Linked DNA regions of Homo sapiens. The protein of the gene in region 1 interacts with the protein of each later gene in a biochemical or structural test. Each region holds a gene or a part of one and is shown on either strand. Other genes may lie near its edges.

The links.
Region 2: the proteins of EZH1 (region 1) and APBA2 interact in a test that uses a peptide from one of them, tested with the Homo sapiens proteins (one large-scale study listed by IntAct).
Region 3: the proteins of EZH1 (region 1) and IL16 interact in a test that uses a peptide from one of them, tested with the Homo sapiens proteins (one large-scale study listed by IntAct).
Region 4: the proteins of EZH1 (region 1) and ARHGEF12 interact in a test that uses a peptide from one of them, tested with the Homo sapiens proteins (one large-scale study listed by IntAct).
Region 5: the proteins of EZH1 (region 1) and SYNJ2BP interact in a test that uses a peptide from one of them, tested with the Homo sapiens proteins (one large-scale study listed by IntAct).
Region 6: the proteins of EZH1 (region 1) and RADIL interact in a test that uses a peptide from one of them, tested with the Homo sapiens proteins (one large-scale study listed by IntAct).
Region 7: the proteins of EZH1 (region 1) and FRMPD3 interact in a test that uses a peptide from one of them, tested with the Homo sapiens proteins (one large-scale study listed by IntAct).

The regions. Positions count from the first base shown.
Region 1 is NC_000017.11:42,742,241-42,746,498, reverse strand, and holds the start of EZH1 (histone-lysine N-methyltransferase EZH1), read left to right. Parts: upstream 1-1,458; 5' UTR 1,459-1,481; coding exon of another isoform or gene 1,482-1,488; intron 1,489-4,258.
Region 2 is NC_000015.10:29,112,974-29,115,894, forward strand, and holds part of APBA2 (amyloid-beta A4 precursor protein-binding family A member 2), read left to right. Parts: intron 1-902; coding exon 903-1,043; intron 1,044-2,921. UniProt on the Homo sapiens protein: Putative function in synaptic vesicle exocytosis by binding to STXBP1, an essential component of the synaptic vesicle exocytotic machinery. May modulate processing of the amyloid-beta precursor protein (APP) and hence formation of APP-beta.
Region 3 is NC_000015.10:81,199,879-81,203,378, forward strand, and holds part of IL16 (pro-interleukin-16), read left to right. Parts: intron 1-522; exon of another isoform or gene 523-592; intron 593-3,500. UniProt on the Homo sapiens protein: Interleukin-16 stimulates a migratory response in CD4+ lymphocytes, monocytes, and eosinophils. Primes CD4+ T-cells for IL-2 and IL-15 responsiveness. Also induces T-lymphocyte expression of interleukin 2 receptor. Ligand for CD4.
Region 4 is NC_000011.10:120,479,413-120,482,912, forward strand, and holds part of ARHGEF12 (rho guanine nucleotide exchange factor 12), read left to right. Parts: intron 1-547; coding exon 548-1,018; intron 1,019-1,847; coding exon 1,848-2,164; intron 2,165-3,500. UniProt on the Homo sapiens protein: May play a role in the regulation of RhoA GTPase by guanine nucleotide-binding alpha-12 (GNA12) and alpha-13 (GNA13). Acts as guanine nucleotide exchange factor (GEF) for RhoA GTPase and may act as GTPase-activating protein (GAP) for GNA12 and GNA13.
Region 5 is NC_000014.9:70,375,591-70,379,090, reverse strand, and holds part of SYNJ2BP (synaptojanin-2-binding protein), read left to right. Parts: intron 1-3,319; coding exon 3,320-3,415; intron 3,416-3,500. Other genes in the region: SYNJ2BP-COX16 protein, read left to right, coding at 3,320-3,415. UniProt on the Homo sapiens protein: Regulates endocytosis of activin type 2 receptor kinases through the Ral/RALBP1-dependent pathway and may be involved in suppression of activin-induced signal transduction.
Region 6 is NC_000007.14:4,877,217-4,880,716, reverse strand, and holds part of RADIL (ras-associating and dilute domain-containing protein), read left to right. Parts: intron 1-2,513; 5' UTR 2,514-2,577; coding exon 2,578-3,112; intron 3,113-3,500. UniProt on the Homo sapiens protein: Downstream effector of Rap required for cell adhesion and migration of neural crest precursors during development.
Region 7 is NC_000023.11:107,452,652-107,456,151, forward strand, and holds part of FRMPD3 (FERM and PDZ domain-containing protein 3), read left to right. Parts: intron 1-3,500.

The DNA.
Region 1 (4,258 bases):
TTAAATTCAGCTTATGCAGGCTGGGCATTGTGGCTCATGCCTGTAATCCCAGCACTGGGAGGCAGAGGTGGGGGGATCACCTGAGTCAGCAGTTCGAGACCAGCCTGGACAACATGGTGAAACCCCATCTCTACTAAAATTACAAAATTTGCCGGGTATAGTAGTGCATGCCTGTAAACCCAGCTACTTGGGAGGCTGAGGCAGGAGAATCGCTTGAACCCAGGAGGCAGAGATTGCAGTGAGCCGAGATTGCACCATTGCACTCCAGCCTAGGCAACAAGAGTGAAACTGTCTCAAAACAAACAAACAAACAACACGCACAAAAAATCAGCTTATGCGTGTTCGTCAAGAATACCACAGAAGTGATTTTGTGCGCTTCTCATTGCATCATGTTCAGAGGGACCTGGTAAGAATACCTCTCAGCTGGGGGCAATGGCTCATGCCTGTAATCCCAACACTTTGGGAAATCAAGGTGGGAGGATGGCTTGAACCCTGGAGTTCAAGACCAGCCTAGGCAACACAGCAAGACCCTGTCTCCTTAAAAAGAAGAGGGAGGCCGGGCGTGGTGGCTCATGCCGGTAATCTCAGCACTTTGGGAGGCCGAGGTAGGCAGATCACTTGAGGTCAGGAGTTTGACAGCAGCCTGGCCAATACGGTGAAACCCCATCTCTACTAAAAATACAAAAATTAGCCGGGCGTGGTGGCACGAACCTGTATTCCTGGCTACTTGGGAGGCTGAGGCGGGAGAATTGCTTGAGCCCGGGAGGGAGAGGTTGCAGTGAGCCGAGATCGCGCCACGGCACTCCAGCCTGTGTAAGTAACAAAGCGAGACTCCGTCCAGCCTCGCCCCCCGGCAAAAAAAGAAGAAGAAAACAATACCTCTTATCACTAGTGATGCTAACTTTGATCACTTAGTTAAGGTGGTGTCTGACAGATTCTTATCTGTAAAGTTGCTATTTTTTTCCCTTTGTAACTAGCAGGTGTCTTGTGGGGATTTATTTCGATACAAGGCTATAATTTTGATTCTAAGTGACTAGAAAACTATGAACAGAAATAGGGAGATCAGACATAAATAAAGGGCTTAGAACCCATAGACCGGTGTCTGGAGAACTGGTAGGGGTGAAGCATCGGTATGAAGGTGATCTGGGTTGGCTTCAAACGCTGAAGTGAGATGTGGCTTGTCACCAGCGCGTGGGGATGGCAAATCCGCTGAATAGGGTCTTCAGGAAGATATTAGTGGCTCTGCGAAGGTTTCCCCAGAGCCCTTCCCCTCCCCTGCCAGCGCCGCTTTGGAAGCCGTCTGGGAGGCTGCACCCGCCAGGACTCCTGAGTGCGGGGTTTTGGCGGCAAATGACAGTAGTGCGTCCGCGCGGCACGGGTAAGTCAATGCGCACGCGCCGACAGGAGGCGCGGGGCGGGGCACGGCGCAGGGGTGGGGCCGCGGCGCGCATGCGTCCTAGCAGCGGGACCCGCGGCTCGGGATGGAGGGTGAGTGAGTAAACAAGCCTGGGCCGGGCGGTGGGGCCGGGCCTCCTCCCCTCGCCGCCCTGGGCCTGAGGGAGGGAGAGGCGGAGGGATCAGGAAATTGGAAGGAATCCGAGGGACACACTGCCTGCCTGGCCGGGGGTAGCAGGCGCCCCTCCTCATTCCGAGGGTGGGGGAATGGGGGCGACGGGGCGAGAGAGACCCAGGCGAGGACAGCGTCTGGGGCTGCGAGGGCTGTGTGCCCGGGAGGAGGAGCGGCGGGGGCGGGCTCGGGGACGGGGAATCCCGTTGGATGGCGGTGTGGGCCGGTGGGCGGGAGCCCCAGCGCCCAAAGGGCGCGGGAGGGCGGTGGCACCTGCGGGGGCCTTTAGCGAGGTGGACTCTGGGGACCTGGAGCTGTGCTTGGGGAGGGCTAGAGACCGGGGCTGATCTTGCGATGGCTTTCGGGGATGTTGAGGAGGGGTAGCAGTAAAAACAAGGCCGGGACTAGGGTGAGGTGAGTAAGGCTCCCAAGGCACAAAGTGTAAAGGAGCACTGACTCAGGGTCGCGCAAGTGCAGTGAGCGCCTCCTCACGTGCGTCCTGGGTGCCTCGGTCGCCTCACCCCAGGCCTGGCCCTGAGCAAGAATCTCCTTCACTCCAGACTTTTGGTCTCACGCCAATGATCGCTCACCCCCACCATTCAACCGAGGATCAAATGATATAAATAAAAGTGCCTTGAAGCACAGACAAGGTGTTGTATTTGGGACATGCCTGTTAGGAAATGTGGGACAAACTTTTATTTCAATAAAAAGTGACTACTGAGGAATTGTTTCTTGAGCAGGGAAGGGAAGGGATACCTGAAGGATGTTAGTGCCCCCCGTGGAATGTGAAGGAATATGGAGGGTGAAATACAGGGTTGTATGTGATGTAGCCCAGGCCGATAGGAACCTGACGCTTGGCAGGGGAGGATGAAAGCAAAGGAGCTCAGGTACACTAACAATTAGGTGGGTGCAAGGATGGCAATGAAAACGCGAGTCTCCTCCACGTTTGCTGCCATACTGCCGCTGAATAAAAAAATTCCCACACCCCATGTTTTTTAAATTTAGGAAACTGATATTGAAGGAGGTTTCCAGCCTGAGAAGGTGCTAACCCTATTAGAGGTTTCTGTGAAAGCTTGTCTATTTTAAGTCTTGGAATCCCCAGATATGCCACTGATAAAAGAGATTACTTACATAGGAGAGAGTGTGTGTTAGGAGATAAGTACTTTAGACTGGGCTCGGTGGCTCATATCTGAAATCCCAGCATTCGGGAGGCCCAGGCAGGAGAATAGCTTGAGCCCAGGAGTTTGGGACCAGCTCAGGCAACAATAGCGAGACCTCATCTCTACAAAAAAAAAATAGCCAGATGTGGTGGCCTTCTCCTATAGTCCCAGCTGCTTGGGAGGCTGAAGCAGGAGTATTGCTTGAGACTGGGAGGTCAAGGTTGCAATGAGCTCTGATCCTGCCACTGCACTCCAGTCTGGGTGACAGCACCTGAGACCCTGTCTCAAGAAAAAAAAAAAAAGCCTGGCACGGTGGCTCATGCCTGTAATCCCAACACTTTGGGAGGCTGAGGTGGACCGTTCACTCGAGCCCAGGAGTTTGAGACCAGCCTGGGCAACATGGGACAACTCCATCTCTACTAAAAATACAAAAATTAATCAGGTGTGGTGGCACACGCCTGTAGTCCCAGCTACTCGGGAGGGCTGAGGCATTAGAATCGCTTGAACCGGGAGGTGGAGGTTGCAGTGAGCCGAGATTGCACCACTGCACATCAACCTGGGCAACAGAGTGAGATTCTGTCAAAAAAAAAAAAAAAAAAAGGAGGCCTGGCACAGTGGCTCAGGCCTGTAATCCCAGCACTTTGGGAGGCCAAGGCAGGCGGATCACTTGAGGTCAAGAGTCCGAGAGCTGCCTGGGCAACATGGCGAAACTCCTTCTCTACAAAAATACAAGAATTAGCTGGGCGTGGTGGTGGGTGCCTGTAATCCCAGCTATTCAGGGGGTTGAGGCACGAGAATCGCTTGAACCTGGGAGGTGGAAGTTGCAGTGAGCCGACATGCACCACTGCATTGCAGCATGGGTGACAGAGCAAGACTCCATCTCAAAAAAGAAAAAAAAAAGGGAGAGAGAAGTACTTAAAAACGCACATACATAATAGGAGAAAGGACTATCTATAAAACTGTAATAATGCTATCATTGTCAAGGTTTATGCTTATTGTTGTGTGTCACAAACATAATGAATCAACTCCAAAGGCAGGGATATATGTTTTATTCATTGATGTACCCCAAACACCTAAAATGGTAACACATAGTAGATACTACTATTAAGTATAATAGTAGGTGCTCAACATATATTTGTGGAATAAATAGTGGGGAAATTTCTGGCACTGGGAGTCAGGTGATCCGGATGCTAGTATTGTCAGTAACTGGCAGAGTACTTGTATGCTAATCGTGGAACTTGATGCTAAGGCCCAGCTTAAAATTCCTTAAAGTGTAAATGACTTCTTCATTATGATGGTTACATTAGTGCCCTTTGAAACAGCACTAGAGGCTGGGCTGATGGCTTACACCTATAAGCCCAGCACTTTGGGAGGCTGAGGCTGTTGGATCACCTGAGGTCGGGGAGTTCAAAACCAGCCTGGCCAATATGGTGAAACCCCATCTCTACTAAAAATACAAAAAATTAGCCAGACGTGGTGGCGGACACCTATAATTCTAGCTCTTGGGAGACAGAGGTGGGAGAATCGCTTG
Region 2 (2,921 bases), on another chromosome or scaffold:
TGTTTCATGCAGCATAGTGTCCCCGAGGTCTGTCCGTGTTGTAGCACACTTCAGACTCTCCCTCCTCTCCAGGGCTGAGTACTGTTTCCCTGCAGGCCTAGAGCACATTCTGTTTCTCCGCTAGTCCGTGCTGTCACCCTCGGCTGTTGTGAACACTGCTGCTGTGAACACGGGTGTGCACGGCGCCTGTTTTCCATTCTGTCCAGTCTCGTGGTCACAGGCGCTCCCAGGCCCTCCTGTCCATCTGTTTGGCGTCACTTTTAGGCTGGAATGGAAGCCCCCACCGCTGCACTCCAGCCTGGGTGACAGAATGAGACCCTGTCTCCAACAAAACCAGAACCAGTATATTTGGCACAAAATGCCCTTACGTCACTTGGCGGGGGGGGGATGTAGGAATAAAGTGACTCTTCCCTGTCGATGTAGACCATTTGGGCATCCGGCAAACAGAGCCTTCCCTTGACAGAACAGATGCCCCACCTTTCTGGTGGCCAGGGGACAGGCTGCCTCTCCTTTCCCGCCCGCCCATCAGCTAAGTGCCTGTCTTCCAGGATGGTAACCAGGCTGTGCCGTAGGAGGCCAGGTGGCAGTGGCCTTGGGCTGTGTCACCAGTCTCTAGCCTGACCACAAAGGGAGCGGCCCTGGGGGAGGTGCAGCTGGGGGACAGGTTCCACCGTGGGAGTCAGAAAACTTGGTGGTTCCCCACACACCATGGCATTAACTCTCTTGTTTTAAAGAAACATACTGCATATCATAAGGATCTCTGTCTGTGAGTCAGCGAATTGCACGTGCACGTATTCATCATGTGGCGCTTTTCCCTCTGCATGTCCCATCTTTGGGGACGTGGTGGAGCGCCTGTCGGGTGTGGCGGGAACACGTGTGCTGACCTGGCCATGTCTGCTTAGATCTGCAGCCTCATGAGAGGGGGCATTGCTGAGCGAGGGGGCGTCCGTGTGGGCCACCGCATCATCGAGATCAACGGGCAGAGCGTGGTGGCCACAGCCCACGAGAAGATAGTCCAAGCTCTGTCCAACTCGGTCGGAGAGGTAAGGAGGGACTTTGAGTGTGCCTCTGCATGCCGGTTCCCACGTGCTCCCGCCTGCCCTCCATGAGCCTCCCCCGCTCCAGAGGACACAGGGCATCTGAAGGTCAGCCAGGCTGTGTCTCCCATCGGGGCTGCTGTGACAAGGGTGAATGGAGCGGCAGGTGATGCGGAGCCATCCCGGTCTGGCTCTAACTGAGCAACCGGGAGGGCACAGGCTGCTGGGGGTGCTCCCTGGACACTACTTTTGGGACTGGACCTGTATGTCCAGTTCAGAAGCTCTGCAGGGCACACAGCTCTGGCCACCCTGGCAGGCTTGCCTCTCTGCCCTTGCTGGCCATCCCCTCCCACAGCCAGGCTGCTTGCCCTGTCCCACTTCACTGGCTGAACCCCCCACAGTCCAGTTCTTTCTGGCATCGCTTCCACGGCAGTGTGAGGATGGTGTGGGGGAGGTGCAGGTTTTCCTCCAGAGCTCACAAGGAGGCAGGATCATTGGGAGGGGGGATGGTGCTGGGGAGGTGGCACATACACCGGGGGAGGCCTGGCCAGTGCGCAGCGGGTGTGCGTGTGTGTGTGTGTGTAGTGTGAGCGAGTGTGGGTGTGTGCATGTGGATGTGTGAGAGCATGGGTGTGTGTGGGATGTGATGTATGAGTGTGGGTAAGTGTGGGTAGGTGTGGGAAATGAGTGTGTGCGTGCACGTGGGTGTATAGGGGTGCATGAGTGGATGGGTGTGGGTGTGTGGCTGTGTGAATGTACCTGAGTGTGCGTGTGGAGGAGTGTGTGTGTGTGGGTGAGTGTATGCGGATGTACGTGTGTGTGTGAGAGCATGGGGTGTGTAGGAGTGCGAGTGTGGGTGTGTGCAGGGGTGTGTGGCTGTGGGTGTGTGTGAGCATGGGGTGTCAAGCATGAGTGTGTATGTGTGCACGGCTGTGGCTGTGGGTCTGTGAGTGGGTGTGAGGCATGGGGTGTGAGGAGAGTGTGAGTGGGTGTGTCTGTGTGTGTGTAGGGGTGTGTGAAGGGGTGTTCAGCACAAAGGGGCTGCAGGCTCTCTGGGAAGCGTGGTGGCCGCACGAGGCGGGAGGCTGAGAGCTGAGGAGCCCGGCCTACAGAGGGGCCCGCTGGGGACCGGGCAGGGAATTTGGGTCTGGGGACAGCAGCAGCAGGCCGGGCCGTCTGTGGTGCTCCCCCTGGTGGCTCTGTGAGGCTGAGTGCGTGGCGACCATCCTTGCAGCCTGTGGGTGGGCGGGTGGGTGGAGGGGTCTCTAGTTCCTGTTCTTCGGATGAGGTCTCCAGGAGCCACATCGGGACACTGGTATTTTGTGCACTGCAGGGTCGGCTGGGAGCTGGGAGGCCTGTTTTCCCTGGACTGGTGGGGGCAGGGGTCTGGCTCAGGAGGAGGAGGGGCCAGGCGGACACCAGCCTCCCTTTGATGGCTTCAAAGAAAGGAAAAGCCAGTGTTCCCAAGTAGATGCTTTGAAGCGGCCGCCCCCACGGCCAGCAGCCCCACACCTGTGAGGAAATCCACCCGTGGAGGAGCGGGCGGGAGAACGGGGAAGAGGCAGGAGGCGGCCGGGGCGTTGGAATCCTTTCAGCCCTGCCGAGGTTATGGTGCCTGTTTCCAGCAGCTCTGAGCCCACGCGGAACATGAGTCGCTGATAAACAAGGCTTGCAGTTGCGAGGGGCCTCGGGGTGGGTTTCTGGTTGAGGAACGCCGGGGAATGGCTGATGGAGGAAGCCCCTGCCGGGAGCAGGAGCAGCGGAAACCTACATCGGCCACACAGATCCCGGCGGGGGAGGGAGGGCAACGCTCAGAAGCAGAGCTGCGCGATGTGCCTTTCTGGGCTGCTCAGCCCAGGGCCCGAGACCTGCTTGCCTGAGGAG
Region 3 (3,500 bases), on another chromosome or scaffold:
TGAGTAGGGCTGAGCAAATGCGGCAAAATCAATGCACATATGACAAGATTCAGTGGCCCAAAGAAGGGAGCTAAATGAGGAATCAAAGCAAATACCCCATATGGAATTGCTGTAAAAAATCAGAGAAAACCTGAAAGTAGTGGTTTTCAAGCATGACCCACTAGTGGATTGAAAATCAACTTAGCGGGTTGGAACCAACTTCCTTTTTCTAAAACAAAAAAAGAATAGCATACATCAGATTGCATCAGGTTCTTAGCAAAATCATATTTTATATTATCTTTTTCATACCAAAGATATTTTATATTATTTTTATTATACCGTAGTAAAGGTATTGTTTCATGAAAGTTTTTAGTTATATATATTTATTTATTTATGTATACATATAAATCTTATGTGTATGTGATCCATGTACTATGATGTAAAATGTAAATTATTATGGTAAGTCAAGATTTTTTTAATTTTTAAAATTCTTTAAAAATTATTTTTATTTATTTATCTATTTATTTTTTGAAACAGGGTCTCACTCTGTTGCCCAGGCTGGAGTTCAGCAGTGCAATCCCGGCTCACTGCAGCCTTGACTCCGTGAGCTCAGGTGATTCTCCCCCTTCAGCCTCCCGAGTAGCTGGGACTACAGGCACACGCCACCACACCTGGATAATTTTTTGTATTTTTATTAGAGATGGGGTTTTGCCATGTTGGCCAGGCTGGTCTCAAACTCTTGAGCTCGAGTGATCTGCTCGCCTCAACCTCCCAAAGTGCTGGAATTAAAGTCGTGAGCCACCATGCCTAGCCTAGGTCAAGATTTTAAAAGTTTCATAAATAGTCCTGTAGAACACTGGGTGGAGTTTGGAATGGTGAAAATGTGTCAGGAGAGTATTGTAACTGAAATATTCCTGATCTTCTCTTTCAAAAAGATGGCCTTCTTCCCATTATCCAAGGCAAGGATTTCAGGCCTGAGTCAGCCATAAGCTCATCTGTCTTTTTTTCTGTACTTACCTCCTCATAAATGGATTAAGAGAGCCTCGAGCAATGGTGAGGGTTGGAGAAGGTGGACAGGTGGCCCAGTCTTATGCGCTTTCCCTCTCTTCCTTCCTTCTCCTCATCCTCCAAGGATGGTTGTAGCCAACTCCAGCCAAAGTGCAGATGCCAGAGAATCCTGCAGCAGTTGCTGAGAACACAGGATACCTGTCACATTTACTGAAGCAGTGGCAGGACAATGCATCCCCTGCATTGAGCTAGTTGTCAGAAGCAGAAAATAAAAAGTGTGTGTGTGTCTCTGTGTGTGTGTGTGTGTATGTGTGGTGAAAAAGAGAAATATATCTAAAAATAATCTTAAAAGACATGATATGTAATTTCTTACCAAAACTCAAGCCAAAGCAATCACACATACACCCACACACATGCACGCACACACCCCCATCCACACACACACACACAGAAGTAAATGACAGCAGTTGGACCATCAAAATCTGAAAAATTCTTTCAGGCCAAAGACTCCATAATGCTCTATAGCTGTTATTTTGCATTTCTTTGAATCTCCTCTCAGTTCTATTTAGAGATCACGAAATGTCTAATTTAATGGCCCTGCCCTTAGTTCTCCAGGAAGGAGATCTTAGTTGTTCATCCACGAACAACTTTTTGAGCCACTTTCCTACTTCTATTTCTTCCAGTAGGCAGATCATATTTTGGGTTTCTTTGTTTTAAGTTTGTGGTTTTTGTTTTTCCCTCTTTTTCTTTTTAGGTTGTAGTTAAGTGGTGTATACAAATTTATTAGCAATTTATTATATTGCCACTTTGTATTTTAATCTTTAATATTAAATTTTGTGTTTGGTAAAAATGCTGTAATTAGTAAAATGTAGAGTAATCAGTTTTTACCCATTCTCTGCTCTTCAATAACAGCTTGTTGAGTATTCTCTCTGATTTATTCTAGCATCAGACACACACACGCGCACACACTGTGCTGCAGCATGTTTTGTTTTCCAATTCTATGTAGCACAAAAAGACTTAACCTCATTCTTCTCCATATCTCAACAGTATTCCATGTATCTTGATGATCACTTACAATATAAGGCAAGTAAGCATAGGCAATTCATCAGATTTGAACCAGAGATGGGGTTACTAAGTGAACTATTAGTTCCCCAGAAGAATTAGCCCAAGCAAAGGTGTTGTACAGTATGTAAAATGTCTTTTCCTACTTTATACATTTTATCTGGCCAGAGAACACCTTTAAACATTAAATGCAATCATCCTTAGTCATTCAACAAATATTTACTGAGCAATTGATAGAGGCCATTCGCCAAGCTAGGCCTCATGGATCAACTCGAAATATGACAGACAGACTCTGCCCTCAGGGAGCTTAGAGTTCAGTAGACATGACCAGTGGTGACACAAGCCACTGGAGTAGCATCAGATGAGTGCTTTGGTAGTGGAAGAACCTGTTCTCAGAGCACAGACAGCTTTGGGGGTCTGTATTGGTTTGTGGTTTCATTTTAAAGAAGTGTTATCCAAAAATAGGGTTTGAAGAGTGATGAAAATTTAGCATCATCAAGGACTATAGAAAATTTGGAAGGCATATCTCCTAATGCTATCCCTCCCCCCTCCCTACACCCACAACAGTCCCCAGTGTGTGATGTTCCCCTTCCTGTGTCCATGTGTTCTCATTGTTCAATTCCACCTATGAGTGAGAACATGCAGTGTTTGGTTTTTTGTCCTTGCAATAGTTTGCTGAGAATGATGGTTTCCAGTTTCATCCATGTCCCTACAAAGGACATGAACTCATCATTTTTTATGGCTGCATAGTATTCCATGGTGTATATGTGCCACATTTTCTTAATCCAGTCTATCATTGTTGGACATTTAGGTTGGTTCCAAGTCTTTGCTATTGTGAATAGTGCCCCAATAAACATACGTGTGCATGTGTCTTTATAGCAGCATGATTTATAATCTTTTGGGTATATACCCAGTAATGGGATGGCTGGGTCAAATGGTATTCCTAGTTCTAGATCCCTGAGGAATCGCCACACTGACTTCCACAATGGTTGAACTAGTTTACAGTCCCACCAACAGTGTAAAAGTGTTCCTATTTCTCCACATCCTCTCCAGCACCTGTTGTTTCCTGACTTTTTAATGATCACCATTCTAACTGGTGTGAGATGATATCTCATTGTGGTTTTGATTTGCATTTCTCTGATGGCCAGTGATGATGAGCACTTTTTCATGTGTCTGTTGGCTGCGTAAATGTCTTCTTTTGAGAAGTGTCTGTTCATATCCTTCACCCACTTTTTGATGGGGTTGTTTTTTTCTTGTAAATTTGTTTGAGTTCATTGTAGATTCTGGATATTAGCCCTTTGTCAGATGAGTAGGTTGCAAAAATTTTCTCCCATTCTGTCAGTTGCCTGTTCACTCTGATGGTAGTTTCTTTTGCTGTGCAGAAGCTCTTTAGTTTAATTAGATCCCATTGGTCAATTTTGTCTTTTGTTGCCATTGCTTTTGGTGTTTTA
Region 4 (3,500 bases), on another chromosome or scaffold:
ATCATTGTCTGGGTGACCTCATAGCATACACTTGGCCCATTCAAAATTAAATTGGTTCTTATTTTCAGTAAATGTATGTATCTCATAAAATTAGAGGAAATAATATGCATATAGTGTCTGGATCTGGAAAAAGCAGAACTTTTTTTTAGCTTTTTCTGTCTAGCTTAACACAGCCTTTCAACATTCTTAAGAAGTACCTTTAGGGTATTATTCTAGTTATATAGAAGAAAAAATAGAGGCATGATATTGGTTATTGAGGAGTTCTAAATAGTAGTATCTCCCTATTCAGAATGCTTAGATCTTTTCAAGTTTAGTTTAACGTTAAATCTTCTCTAAAAGATGGTGCTTTATTTCATCTTCAAAACAAAATGGAAAATGATTGTATGAAGTAAGATGATTGTATGAAATTAATAATTAACATTTTAATATGTCATTAAAAGATACTTTTTAAAGATAGATCATTGGTAAGTCAGCTAATTTAATTCTTGCAGCCTGAGGTTATAGTTGTGAATATGTTTTTTTTCCCCCTCCTTCCTAAATCGTTTAGTGGGTTTGTTGAAGCAGTTGCTGGTGCAACAGCTAGGTTTGACTGAGAAGAGCGTTCAGGAAGACTGGCAACATTTCCCAAGATACAGAACAGCCTCTCAGGGGCCGCAGACAGACAGTGTCATCCAGAACTCTGAAAATATTAAGGCCTATCATTCTGGTGAAGGACATATGCCCTTTAGAACTGGAACTGGTGACATTGCAACTTGTTACAGTCCACGGACTTCAACTGAATCTTTTGCTCCACGGGATTCAGTGGGACTGGCACCCCAGGATAGCCAGGCAAGTAACATTTTAGTAATGGACCACATGATTATGACCCCAGAGATGCCTACCATGGAGCCAGAAGGGGGTCTTGATGACAGTGGAGAGCACTTTTTTGATGCCCGTGAAGCACATAGTGATGAGAATCCATCAGAAGGTGATGGAGCAGTTAACAAGGAAGAGAAGGATGTTAATTTACGCATCTCAGGCAAGTATCTTTCACACTTAAACTTTGATTTTGATTTTGATCATTGTTAACTGTCCTGTATTTTGAAATGGATGTTGTATTGGTATCCAGGTGTGTGTGTGTGTGTGTGTTCACACATGTGCAATATTTATTCCTTCATTTGATAAATACTGAATCTACTCTGTACCAGACCTCATCATAGGTGCTGGGAGATATAGCAGTGAATAAAACACAGAAAAATCCCATCTTCTCATGAAGCTAGGGGAAAGAAGGATGGTAAATAAGTAAACAAATAAATAGACTTCAGGAAGTATTAGGAAGAAACATAAGTCAGACTGAGGGGACGGAGAGTAATGAAGGCAAACAGGGTGATCAGGGATTAGGACCTCCGATGAGGTAGCATTTGAGCAGAGACCTCAATGAAATGAGGGAATAAAGCCGGGTGGGTACCTGGGAGCTTACTATTCCAGCAGAGAGCAGAGTGGGGCAGAGGCTTTGTGTCAAAGAGCAAGCTTTTTGTGGTGATCGAACACTGGATGAGGGAGACAATGGCAGGAGATGGGGCAAGAGAGGCGTTTGGCAGGGGAAGTGGTAGCAAGATCATTTAGGCACTGTAGTTTCCAGCTTTAAACTTTTGAAATGAAATTTTTTGGAAATTACCATGAAAGTTTGCAGAGTTTAGCTTTCATCTGAAGTGAGGAAATTCTGATGTACCTGAAACTAAACTCAGGAATTAATGGCTTTTCCCTCTCTTAATAACTTTTCAAGTTGAAGTTGTCAGCACACTATGCTATTTCTGTTTTCTAATGGCAGCACTGGTCTTATCAAACTATTCTGTCTCTATCCATAGGAAACTATTTGATCCTTGATGGCTATGACCCAGTGCAGGAGAGTTCCACAGATGAGGAGGTTGCTTCCTCACTTACCCTGCAGCCCATGACAGGCATCCCTGCTGTGGAATCCACCCACCAGCAGCAACATTCTCCTCAGAATACTCACTCCGATGGGGCAATTTCACCATTCACCCCCGAATTTCTGGTCCAGCAGCGCTGGGGAGCTATGGAGTATTCCTGTTTTGAGATCCAGAGTCCCTCCTCTTGTGCAGATTCACAGAGCCAGATCATGGAGTACATTCATAAGATAGAGGCTGACCTTGAACACTTAAAGGTACCTCATACTTCCACATCCATAGGACTTGGTTGTAAGAAACATTTAGCAGAGGGGAAGAATAGGGTGATGAAAATGCTGATGTCAATAAACTTGTTCAGGTTCTAGATTTCTTTGACTATTATCCATGAATAGGCCTGGGTAAAAAGTTGAGATTGGCATTGTTTATCTTTTTCTTTCTTTCTTTTTTTTTTTTTTTTTGAGACGGAGTCTCGCTCTGTCAACCAGGCTAGAGTGCAGTGGCGTGATCTCAGCTCACTGCAAGCTCTGCCTTCCAGGTTCACACCATTCTCCTGCCTCAGCCTCCCAAGCAGCTGGGACTACAGGCACCCGCCCCCACGCCCAGCTAATTTTTTGTATTTTTAATAGAGACGGGGTTTCACCATGTTAGCCAGGATGGTCTCGATCTCCTGACCTCGTGATCCGCCTGCCTCGGCCTCCCAAAGTACTGGGATTACAGGCGTGAGCCACCGCGCCCAGTCGGCATTGTTTATCTTTTGACTATCACAAGAGCAGAAAAAGTTGCAGCTCTGTGAACTGTGTGTTTGTATGGGTGTCTAAGTTTAAGAACCTGAAATGCTTCGGGTAGTTGGCTGGCCTCTGTCAGACATGAACAAGAAGATGAGATAGGTAGGGTTTATGTAGTTATGAATCTAGGCTGAGAAATGCTATGACTTTCTGTAGCCTATTATCTGTGACTCATTAGGTGACATTGGCAGCTTCCCAAATCCTATGACAGATAGAAATTGGCTTCAGTGGCTCCTGTAATCTAAAAACATGGTCATGCATGGGATTTTTGTAGATTGGTAATTGAAGATGTCACTATTGCAAAACTGACTTGTGTGGCAATTTCCAAGAGAAAGACCTATCTTAAAGTTTTCCATCAGAGGCAGGGCACGGTGGCTCACGCCTGTAATTCCAGCACTTTGGGAGGCAAGGCAGGCGGATCACGAGGTCAGGAGATCGAGACCATCCTTGCTAACACGGTGAAACCCCGTCTCTACTAAAAATAAAAAAAATCAGCCAGGTGTGGTGGTGGGCGCCTGTAGTCCCAGCTACTCAGGAGGCTGAGGCAGGAGAATGGCATGAACCTGGGAGGCGGAGCTTGCAGGGAGCTGAGATCACGCCACTGCACTCCAACCTGGGTGACAGAGCGAGACTCTGTCTCAAAAAAAAAAAAAAAAGTTTGCCATCAGAAAACACAGCTTCCAGAGCCCAAACATTTTCCTCATGACATCATTTACACCAGAGACTTGAGGGGTAGATTTAAGTATCCTTAGCCTTTGAGTTAAAGACTGGTCTCCCTTAGTTTCTCTTTTACCTTCATATAATTGAT
Region 5 (3,500 bases), on another chromosome or scaffold:
TAAGGACATGCCTGGGAGACAGGTATGTTCCTTTCTCCAAAGATGATTTTGAGGGCTTTAATATTTAAAGTAGGCTGAAGAGCAAAGAGGGAAGGTATGGTAATCCACATGTTGCCAGAGGAAAGGAGCAGGCAAGGGAATAGTCAATTACGTATTTTCTTTTGCTTAGTAAGTTGGGACTTTACATAAGATAAGGTGAACATAGAGTAATTACCTGTGGAGATATTTAACCTGTTATCTGTAGCTATCTGCTTGGGAACAAAAGGAAAAGCAGTTTATTGCATGACTCAGCTTGCAGCTTAATTTTTTCTCTTGACATGGTGGATTGGGGTCCCAAGTTTTTGTTTTGTTTTTAGTGTCAACAGCCTAAAATAGGCAATAGGAAAGAAAATACTGTATGAGAGATGTCATAGTGTTAGACTGTGGAGTTTGGCAATCTATTGTATATGAAAGTTGACAGCAGAGAGAGTTTAAAACTATTATTAAAATTTTAGCCTGGGCTGGGGCACAATGTCTCACACCTATAATCCCAGCACTTTCGGAGGCTGAGGCAGGAGAATCACTTGATCCCAGGAGTTCAAGTCTCCAGTCAGCCATGATCACACCACTGTGACAGCCTGAGGGACAGAGCAAGACTCTGTCTCAAAAAAAAAAAAAAAAAAAAAAGTTTGAAGGAATGATAGTGGCAATAAGAAGCAAGGTATGTATTCTGATTTTTGTGGGAAGTAATAAAGAGGTTTTGGATATGTTGAATTAGGGTCTAGCAGAGTATACAGGTGTAGGCATCCAGCAAGAAACTGGCAAATCCAGAAGTACAAGTAGGGATACAAATTTGGGAGTTATCTTACAGATTATGGTTGAAACTGTTAAAGCTCACAGTGGGAGAGAAAGAAAGAAGATAGAGGATTGATACTGAAAAACCTTGACTCACCTTAAGGAGAAAGAAAGGGAAGAGGAAATCCGGAAAGGAATAATTTAAGAACAAAGAATGCTAAGTGTTCATATGCCAAGATAGGAGAAAATTACAAAAGGGAGGAGGTGGTCTGAAGACAAAAACGGCTATAGGATTTGGTGATTGGAAGTTATTGGTGACCTTTAGAAAAACATGTTCTTCCCTTCTACCTCATACATTGTGAGATTACAGGGGAATAGAGAATGAATGCTGAAGAAATAGAGGTAGTGCATGCAAACAGTTCTTAGAACAAATTTAGCAGTCAAAGAAAGAGGAAAGAAGATGGGAGGAGAGTGATAATGCGTTCCAAGAAATAGTTGTATTGTTTTCTTTATAGAGGTGTATAATTTTAGTTGAGAGAAGGAGCAGAGAAAGATAATAGTTAAGTAATCAAGAAGACAGAGTGTCTGTGAGTTTTGTAAGGAGGTTAGAAGAAGTATGATCAAGATCATCAGTGGATGGTTTCACCTTGAAAAGGAAATAGATCTAATTCAGAGACTAGGGGAAAGGAGTAGTGAGAAGATATAAAGAAACTTTGAGGGAGAAGGAAAGAAAATGTAGAAAGCATTTATCAGAAGTCCTCAGTGTTCTCACAAAAGATAAAGGAATCAGCTAGGGAGAGAGGTAGAAATGGGGTTGGAGACGGTGGTGGAAAAAGGTCTGGAACAGCTATCACTGCGTGTTTATTAAGGAGTTCAGCAAATGAGTAGAAGCGGTTTTAAGGATGAGCTGGAGTCAGCTAGTATGGGTCTATGGTGGAGAATGAGAATATACCTTTCTCCCAGAATATTCAACTTAATGATGGCAAGAAAAGGATTGCAGAATATGGCCCAGGACTGGAAAGATGGCAGAAGATCTTGGGGACAAAGGATTCTAATGATTTACCAAGTGCTTTGTTGAAATTACAACAGGAACTCCTAGATGGGCAAGGATGCAAGTAAAGTCTAAAAAGGTTACAAGGAGGAAATTCAGTAGATGAATAGAAAGTATGAAAAGAGTGGAAATTGTTGTCAGGTTTTTAAGAGTTTGAGATATTGGAGCTGAAGCATGTCTAATATTGAAGTCTAAGTTTACGTCAATTGGTGACTGAAGTGGAATGGAGTTGGAAACTATTGGTTTACAAAGGTAGACTGTCTATAGGGCAGAAGTGTTGGTAGATTCATTCACCAACTGTATTGGCAAGAGAGAGAGTAGAGGGAAGATTATGAGTGCCTTGGAGAAGGAAGATTGCGACAAGGAAAATGAGAGAGTTGAGTAAGGGAGTGACTTGAGCATTAGCTGAGCAGAGGATAGTTGGTGAGTCAAGATGGAAGAATAACAGTGCAGAAGGAACAGTGAAATGCAAGGACACTTTGATCTTTCTTTCATTATTTACAAATCCTAGCCCTAGCTCCAGCACAAATCTCACTGAGCTTCAAGTTTCTTTATCTGTGGAAACGAGATAAAAATAATGTCTACCTCATAGGGTTATCATGAGAATTAAAAGAGATAATGTATGTAAAGTACAGAACCTATCAAAAGAAATATATCAGATGTTCTTATTGCTGCTACTGTTAACGATGACATTGACAAGTATAAAAGATATGTAATCTTGCACTAAGTGGGCTGTGCTGTGTCACTGAATACAGCATAGGATAGATAGATTATTACTTGTGGCCGATGTCACTCCTAACTGCAAAAAGTATTAATACAAGTATTCCTTCACATCTCTCACCTCTAAGTGGTAGGAGTGACCTACACTGAAATTTTTTTAAGGATTTATATCATCACAGGAATATGGTTTTTACTAAGTTTTGATTAAAAAATGACTAATTTACTAATTTGGATATAATGGATAGGAGTATCCGTGGAATCACAGGAAGTTGTTCACTATGAAAAGCCCAATAGAATGGGCTAGTATAGATTTATATGACATCAAAATAAATTGGTGGAGAGTTTCATAGAGTTATATTTCTACAGTTGCAGCTGGCAATGCCAGGGCTTAGGAATATAAAGGTTAGGGTGGTAACCTGGAAGACCATGCTATCTTTAAGGAAGCAGGTTAACACTCATGGAAGAAATGCTAATACGGTAACAGATTCCCAAGTGTCAAAACGAGACAGGCATAGAAGCTAAGAGGAAGGAGAGACCACTTTTTATTTTACATAGGTTCTCTTCAGATGGCCTGTGGAACTTCAGTTCTAGGAAAACATAGTTTTGAAAATGAAAAAAGTTCTAAGTTCTGAGCTCTAAGTAACTTTGCCCATACTCCTAGTCCTTGCAATTTGCTCTGAAGGAGTTTGTTATTTAAAGTTTGGCCATTTGAAAATAAATTGTTGACTTCTAATAGCCTTCTTCCTTTCTTACTACTCTTTGGTGTTTTGACAGGTAAATGGCCAAGACCTAAAGAACCTGCTGCACCAGGATGCTGTAGACCTCTTTCGTAATGCAGGCTATGCTGTGTCTCTGAGAGTGCAGCACAGGGTAGGTATCACTTTGAGCCAGAAACCTGGCACCAGGCTTTTGCACTGTACTTCTGAATAAGCCCAATGTGTGTAATCTTCAGTGT
Region 6 (3,500 bases), on another chromosome or scaffold:
CTGCCTGGTGGCAGAGGCTGTACCATCCACCACCTGCACTTTGCCTTTGCACCCTGGGGAACCCGTTGGAAATGAGCACTATGAAAAGGTGGTGGCCGACCCTCTGCCAGTGTGTGCTGCCTGGAGGCTTCTAAGCCTGGGGCATCTGGAGAGGTGCTTTGGAGCAGGGTTGTGCAGCTCTCATGGATGGTTAATAAGTGCCGGCTGGAGAGGCTCTTTGAGGGGTTTTGTTCTGTGATTCCAAGTACTCACTTTGAAAACTGACCACAGGAGACTGAGGTCAGACTAGAGGGCGATTGGAAGCCGCTGGTGTGGTGTGCACAGGCCAGGCCGCACGTTTGTGATGTGAGCACTGTCTGAAAATGCTTTTGTTGTAAATGAAACCGAGGCCTTTGATGAGTCCGTGGGGGAAGCTGCGGCCGGCTCTGAGCTTCTTAGGATTTGACAAGGCCACTCGTTGCACCTTCCTCAGAGGAAGAGAAACAAAGGCTTTGCTCCTTTACTCCTTTATGGCCTGGCTCGATGGAACCTCAAGGCTCCATCTGCTTATGACCTGTACTGGGAACTCCGTGACCTGTTACAGCAAATTCACCTCTTCAGAAAGCCAGGCACAGCGAAAGCCTTTGCCGTGGTGAAGTGTCCGCAGTGGGCTATAGGAACAGGAGAAGGGCCAGCCACCCACCCCGCAGGGCAGACGTCCGCGTTGGGAACCCAGTCTCTGGTGTGCGAAGCTGTCGGAAGTATTTCTGAAGAGTTCAAGGTCCTCGGAGAAAGCACAGCTGCTGGCTGACCTGGGCTGGTTCTGGAGGAAGCGAGTGGTGGTCTGATTTCAGGACTCACCCATGACAGCTCTGGCGGGCAGTGAGAGGCTCCAGAGAAGATGACCCACGCCCCGGTGATATTAGAAAGAGGCCAGTTCGCAGTGTCAGCTTTGGAGGCTGGGGCGGTTCCACTGTTTAGTTTCCTAAGGGACAGTGTGGCTCCTTTTCTTTGGAGGGGTTCCCTGGTTGCTTTCTGTGGCCCTAGGCAGCCACCGTCCTTTCCAGAAGCCTTTTGCAGCGCCCGCAGCGTGACGAGTGAGTCAAGCCTGGACAGTGACAGTTGGCTGCTGCGGTGTTTAGTACTGACCCCGGTCGCAGTGGCAGGCGACCCGTGCTGTGTTCACTGGGACCTGGACCACTCTTTCCAGAGCTTTCCAGAAAATAGGCTTTCCTCCTGGCTCACTCGTCTGCCACCTTTGTCTTTGGTGAGAACATGAGCACGGAAGTGGGGTACAGTAATGGGGAGATGTGTGCGCAGTTTTCCAGTATTTTCCTGCCTTGCAGTCCAGCCTCACCTTTTCCAAATCGGAGACCTGCCTTCCTTTTTCTCTGCCCTCCTGCCCCCACAGAGGTTCTGGAGGGAGACTGAGAAACCATCTGGAACTCCTGGCCCTGGGCACGCTACGGACATTAGAAGTGTGATTGTATGACACGCCAACGCGTCCCAGGCTGTTTTCCCGTTTCCCCAGGAGACTGCATCTCTGTGGCCTGGAGCGCCGGGCACCCGCGGCCTGTGGTGGGCGGGACGCCTGCATTCCGGCCATGCCTGCACCGGCTCGAGAGGGGCCCTTTGTGCCCGCCGTGCTTGCGAGGCCACTCAGTGCTGCCATCCCAGGGAGTATCTCCTTCAAGCCAGGACGGGTCTCTTGCCCTGAGGGGTAGATTCTGGGGGTTTGTGTCTGGAATGTCTGATGGTCTATTCTGCCAACGTGGCTGCGATTCGCCTGTTTTCCTGGTTGCACTGTGTTTGTGACCCATTTCCCACGTCGCAGCCTGTGGGGTAGGAGACACGAGGTTTACGGAGAGGCGAAGCTTTGCCCTTGGGCTGCCCGCTGCTCTTCTGTGGCTGTGATGGTGCTGGGGCCGGCTCCGGGTGGGGCGCTCCTTGATGCTCACTGCACACGGGCGCTGCGCCCAGCACTTTCCAGAAATCCAAGCCCTGCAGCGGAGCGTGTCTTACTTAGGCGACCTCATTGTGTTTCCCAGTAATGGCTTTCCTTGAAGGGCGCTCCAGCCCGTTTAGTCCTCTCGGTCTCTGGTGGCCCTGCAGGCTCCAGCCACATCCTCTGCTCAGGTGCTCTGGTGTCAGGTCTGCGGGGCCAGGATGCCCACGGCCTGTTATGTCCATTAGATTTTGAGATGGGGTCTTGCTCTGCTGCCCGGGCTGGAGGGCCGTGGCACTATCATAGCTCACTGCAATCTTGAACTCCTGGGCTCAAGCCATCCTCCAGCCTCAGCCTTCAGAGCAGTGGGTACAGTGCACACCACCATGCCTGGCTAATTTTTAAATTTTTTGTAGAGCCGGGGCCTTACTATGTTTCCCAGGCTGGTCTGGAACTCCCGGGCTCAAGCCGTCCTCCCACCTTGGCCTTCTAAAGCGCTGGGATGACGGGCAGGAGTCACCGCCTGTGGCCTCATTTGCTCTTGGTGGTCACGATGGTTGGCGCTAACCTCTCTCACTTTTTCACCCAGGTCACGGCCTCCCCACATCCTTTGGCTGAAGCCCACAGTCCTCATCCATGAAGCCTCACCCACCATGTTTTATGGGACGCACTTCATCATGTCCCCGCCCACCAAGAGCAAACTGAAGCGGCAGAGCCAGCTGTTGTCCAGCATGCTGTCCCGGACGCTGAGCTACAAGTACCGGGACCTGGACTCCACCTTCTCCAGCCTGGGCGCCAGCGATGACCCCGCCGAGCTCTCCACCCAGCTGTCGGCCCCTGGTGTCCTGAAGGTGTTTGGGGACAGTGTCTGCACAGGAACCCACTACAAGAGCGTCCTGGCCACCGGCACCTCCAGCGCCCGTGAGCTGGTGAAGGAGGCGCTGGAGCGGTACGCCCTGGACCCCAGGCAGGCCGGCCAGTACGTGCTGTGTGACGTGGTGGGCCAAGCCGGCGATGCTGGGCAGCGGTGGCAGGCCCGGTGCTTTCGGGTGTTTGGGGACAGTGAGAAGCCCCTCTTGATCCAGGAATTATGGAAACCCCGAGAAGGTTTATCCCGGAGGTTTGAGCTGAGGAAGAGGTCGGACGTGGAGGAGCTGGCAGCCAAGGAGGTGGACACCATCACGGCAGGTGAGGGGGGCCACAGGTTCAGGAAGAGCCGTGGGTCTGAGCGCTGAGAAGGCCAGCCGAGGTAGGCGGAGAAGGAGTGGTGCAGGGGACATGCGTGGGGCGGGCTCGCTCTGCAGGAGGCAGTCGGAGCCCGTGTCCTGGATGTTTGAAGCCTTCCTCTTTTGTTCTCTGAGACAGGGTCTTGCTCTGTCACCCAGGCTGGAGTGCAGTGGTGCAACCACAGCTCACTGCAGCCTCCTGGGCTCAAGCGATCCTCCCACCTCAGCCTCCTGAGTAGCTAGGACTATAGGTGCACCACCACACCCAGCTAATTTTTTACTTTTTGTAGAGACAGGAGTCTCGCTGTGATACCCAGGATAGTCTTGACCTCCTGCCCTCAAGCGATCCT
Region 7 (3,500 bases), on another chromosome or scaffold:
CAACAGAGCCTCTACCCCACTGGAGGAGAGGTCTGGGGACTCCTATGAGGCTGCGAGCTGCATTTGGAATGAGTCAGGGGACCCCTCCCTCTTGTAAGTGGTGCAGTCCGAGGGTCTTGAGAAGTGAGCTGTGTGGCCCAGTTGGGGGATTTTGTGACCAACGACATCCTCTAGGAGCAGTAGTAGATTGAAAAAGTGCAACAAGAAAGCCCTGGGATTGCTGATGATAGCAGCAAGCTGGGAAAGGCTTGCTGGAGATGGGGGTGGGGGTGGGTAACAGAGGAGTCTCGGGTGGGATGAGTAGAGGAGAGGAATTGCCCCACCGCAGTAATCCTTACTTCAGCCCTTGGAGGGAGCATGGGTGGATGCAGGACAACGGAAGCACTCTGTACCCACCCTCCCCCACTACGCATAAATGATTGGACTCCGTGGCTAATGCCTGATAAGGCACTTGGAGGGGCAGCACCAATGCAACAGAGGAAAGATCCCTGTTTTTGTGGCACCTCCAGGCTAACTGAATGAAGCCATAAGACACACATACATACACATACACACAAATACACACACACATATCACACACAAGACACACACCCCTCAGACACACCCTCAAACCCCAACACATACCTGGGGCAAATTGTGGAAAGAGAGGCTCATGCAGACAAGCTTGGTTTTGGGGGGTTCTTGCCTTCACATATAGGCCCTAGCAATCATTGCTAGGGGGACTAGAATTGATACCTATTGATACTAGATGAAGACCCTTAGCTTTGACAGGCCCCCTGGGAGGAAGCACACTCAAGTCAGCTTCTGTTTGTGGGGCAGCCTTAAGGCCATTAGCATTCCCAGCAGAAAATTCTGTTCTGGCTCTTCTCTCAAGGACTTCTATTTTCCTTTTTACCATAAGTTCAGAAACAAAAACATTCTCTTGCATTATCGGCAGCCAAAATGAAGGACTCTCAAAATGGGGTGGACCTTATTGTCTGCTGAGAAATCCTGGGGCTAGGGGCAAAGGGGTAGGGTAGGGAGCAAATCCAGAGAAACATGCCATTTTCCCTCCTTTCCTCCCCTCAGCTGAGCTGCCAAAGGCAAGGACAGTGATCTTGGGGTTCTGTATTATTTCCCACCCATGACAGGCAGAGCACCCTTTTCTGAGACCTGAGGCACCATCCTTAAAACAGAACATTAACAGCCTGTGGCACACTAGTGCCCAATCCCTGGTAGTCAGAAAATGAGCCTGGAAATGGGAATATGTGTATAACGTGGGGCGGGGAAAGGAGAGAGAGGGAAAGAGGTGCTACTTGTGTATCTGTAGGAGCAGGTGTGTCTATTTCTGTGTGTTTGTGTTAAGGAACATGAGAATGAGCAGGTGTGTGCACTCTTGCAGCTTTCTCAGCATGCATGCCGTAGCCAGTGTTTTTGCTCTGTGCCTCAAATTCACTTTGCCATTAGCCACACTACTAGCCACCCGCAGCTTTTGAAAGAACTCTCTGCTAGGTTCTAATATCTGGGTCTCCTTCCAGCCAAGTGACCCCTCCTTTTTTCTCTTTTATTGCTAGTTCTTCTTACTACCCCTCAAATCTGGGTGTTCTCCAGCTCCTCCTGCTTTCCACTTTCTTTATTGACAAGGACACACAGGCATGCATGGCTTCCCTTCTCACCTCTTTACCAACCATTCCCATTTCTCTAGCCCAAACTTAACCCCACTCCTGAGGTTCAGTCCTATATTTCCAACTGCTTGCTAAACATTTCCTCTTGGATAGCTTGCTCTCAGACTCAGTATTCACAAACTCATCTCATTATTTCTCAGAGATGACTCACTCTTCTCACCTTTCTTTTACCATAAGGCTTCTTGTCTCCCAGTCTAGAAACCTCAAAGCCATCTCTGACTCATCCCCTATGCCCCAGTCCACCCTGACTCCTGCCACCACCTCACAGCCACACTGCACTAGTCTCTTTCCTTTCCAGTCCATAATACACACAACTGCTAGATTAATGTTGTGGAATATCCTTTATTCATAATGCTTCTGATCATCATCCTTGGAGGGTGATACCTGATTGCCTGTGGGATAAATTTCAGCCTCCTTAGCCTGGCATTCAAAGTTCTCCTTGTGTGGACCTAACCCTGTATATTCTTCCAACCCTATTTCTCATGCTTGGTCCACATCATTGATTCTCAAATTTTAATGTGTCTTAAAATTGCTTGAGGGAACTTGTTATAATGCAGATTCCTGAGTCCTACCTCCTGAGCTTCTGATTCAGTAGGTCTGGAAGCTGGAGTCCAGGAATATGCATTTTAACAAGCTCCCCAAGTGATTTTGATACACTTGATCTACTTGTGAAACAAAGCCCTACATGGACCCTTCTACTCCAGCCAAGTTTCTTACCCCAGGATCTCCTAAACGTACCTTGTACATTTTTTTTGCCTCTATGTTTTTGTTCATTCCATTTCACTCACCAGGAATGCCCTTTCCTTTCTGCCTATGCTTCTCTCCTATTCCATATCACTATACCTATCCTTCAGCTCTACATTCAAATTCACCTCCTCTGTGAAATCTTCTCTGATCATTTTAGACTAAAGTGATCTCTCTCTCCTCTCAACTCCTCCGTCTCTAAAATACATTTGGGGCTGGGTGTGGTGGCTCAGGCCTGTAATCCTAACACTTTGGGAGGCTGAGGTGGGAGGACAGCTTGAGCCCAGGAGTTTGAAACCAGCCCTTGCAACATAGCGAGACCCTATTTCTACAAAAAACTAAAACATTAGCTGGGTATGGTGGTGCATACCTGTTATCTCAGCTACTCGGGACTACAGAGAGGCTGAGGCGGGAGGATGGCTTGAACACGGGAGGTCGAGACTGCAGTGAGCTGTGGTCGCACCAGTGCACTCCAGCCTGGGTGACAGAGTGAGACCCTGTCTCTAAATAAATAAATAAATAAAAATACATTTGGCAAGTACATCTTTTTTTTTAATTTTTTTAAATCCCCATAGCATATGTGCCTAATACACAGTAGGTACTCAATAGGCATATGTTGAATTGGACCAAATACTTGTTGATTCATATTAGACAGGGATTCTATCGCATCTCCCCCTGCACATTAGTTCATAAAACATTTATTGAGCACCAATTATGTACAAGGCACTGTGCTAGTTGCTGTGGATAATACAAAAGATGAAGGAGGCTTCCTGTCCTTCTCCTTCTCAGTCATCTTTGAATTTACAGTGCCTAGTGCATAGAAGAGATACTTAATAAATATTTGTTGACTACTCAAATGAATGACTTCATGAATAAGTGAAGGGATGAAGTTCAGACTGGAAAAAACTTGAGCAAGTACGTAGGGTGGCTGTGTCATAGAGAAATAGGGCAGGAATGGAAGATAAGGCTAGGAAGATAGAGTGGGTATAGTGGATGACTATTATTATTATTATTATTATTTTTAGAGACAGGGTCTCACTCCGTTGCCCAGATGAGTACAGTGGCATGATCATGGCTCACTGTAGCCTCAAA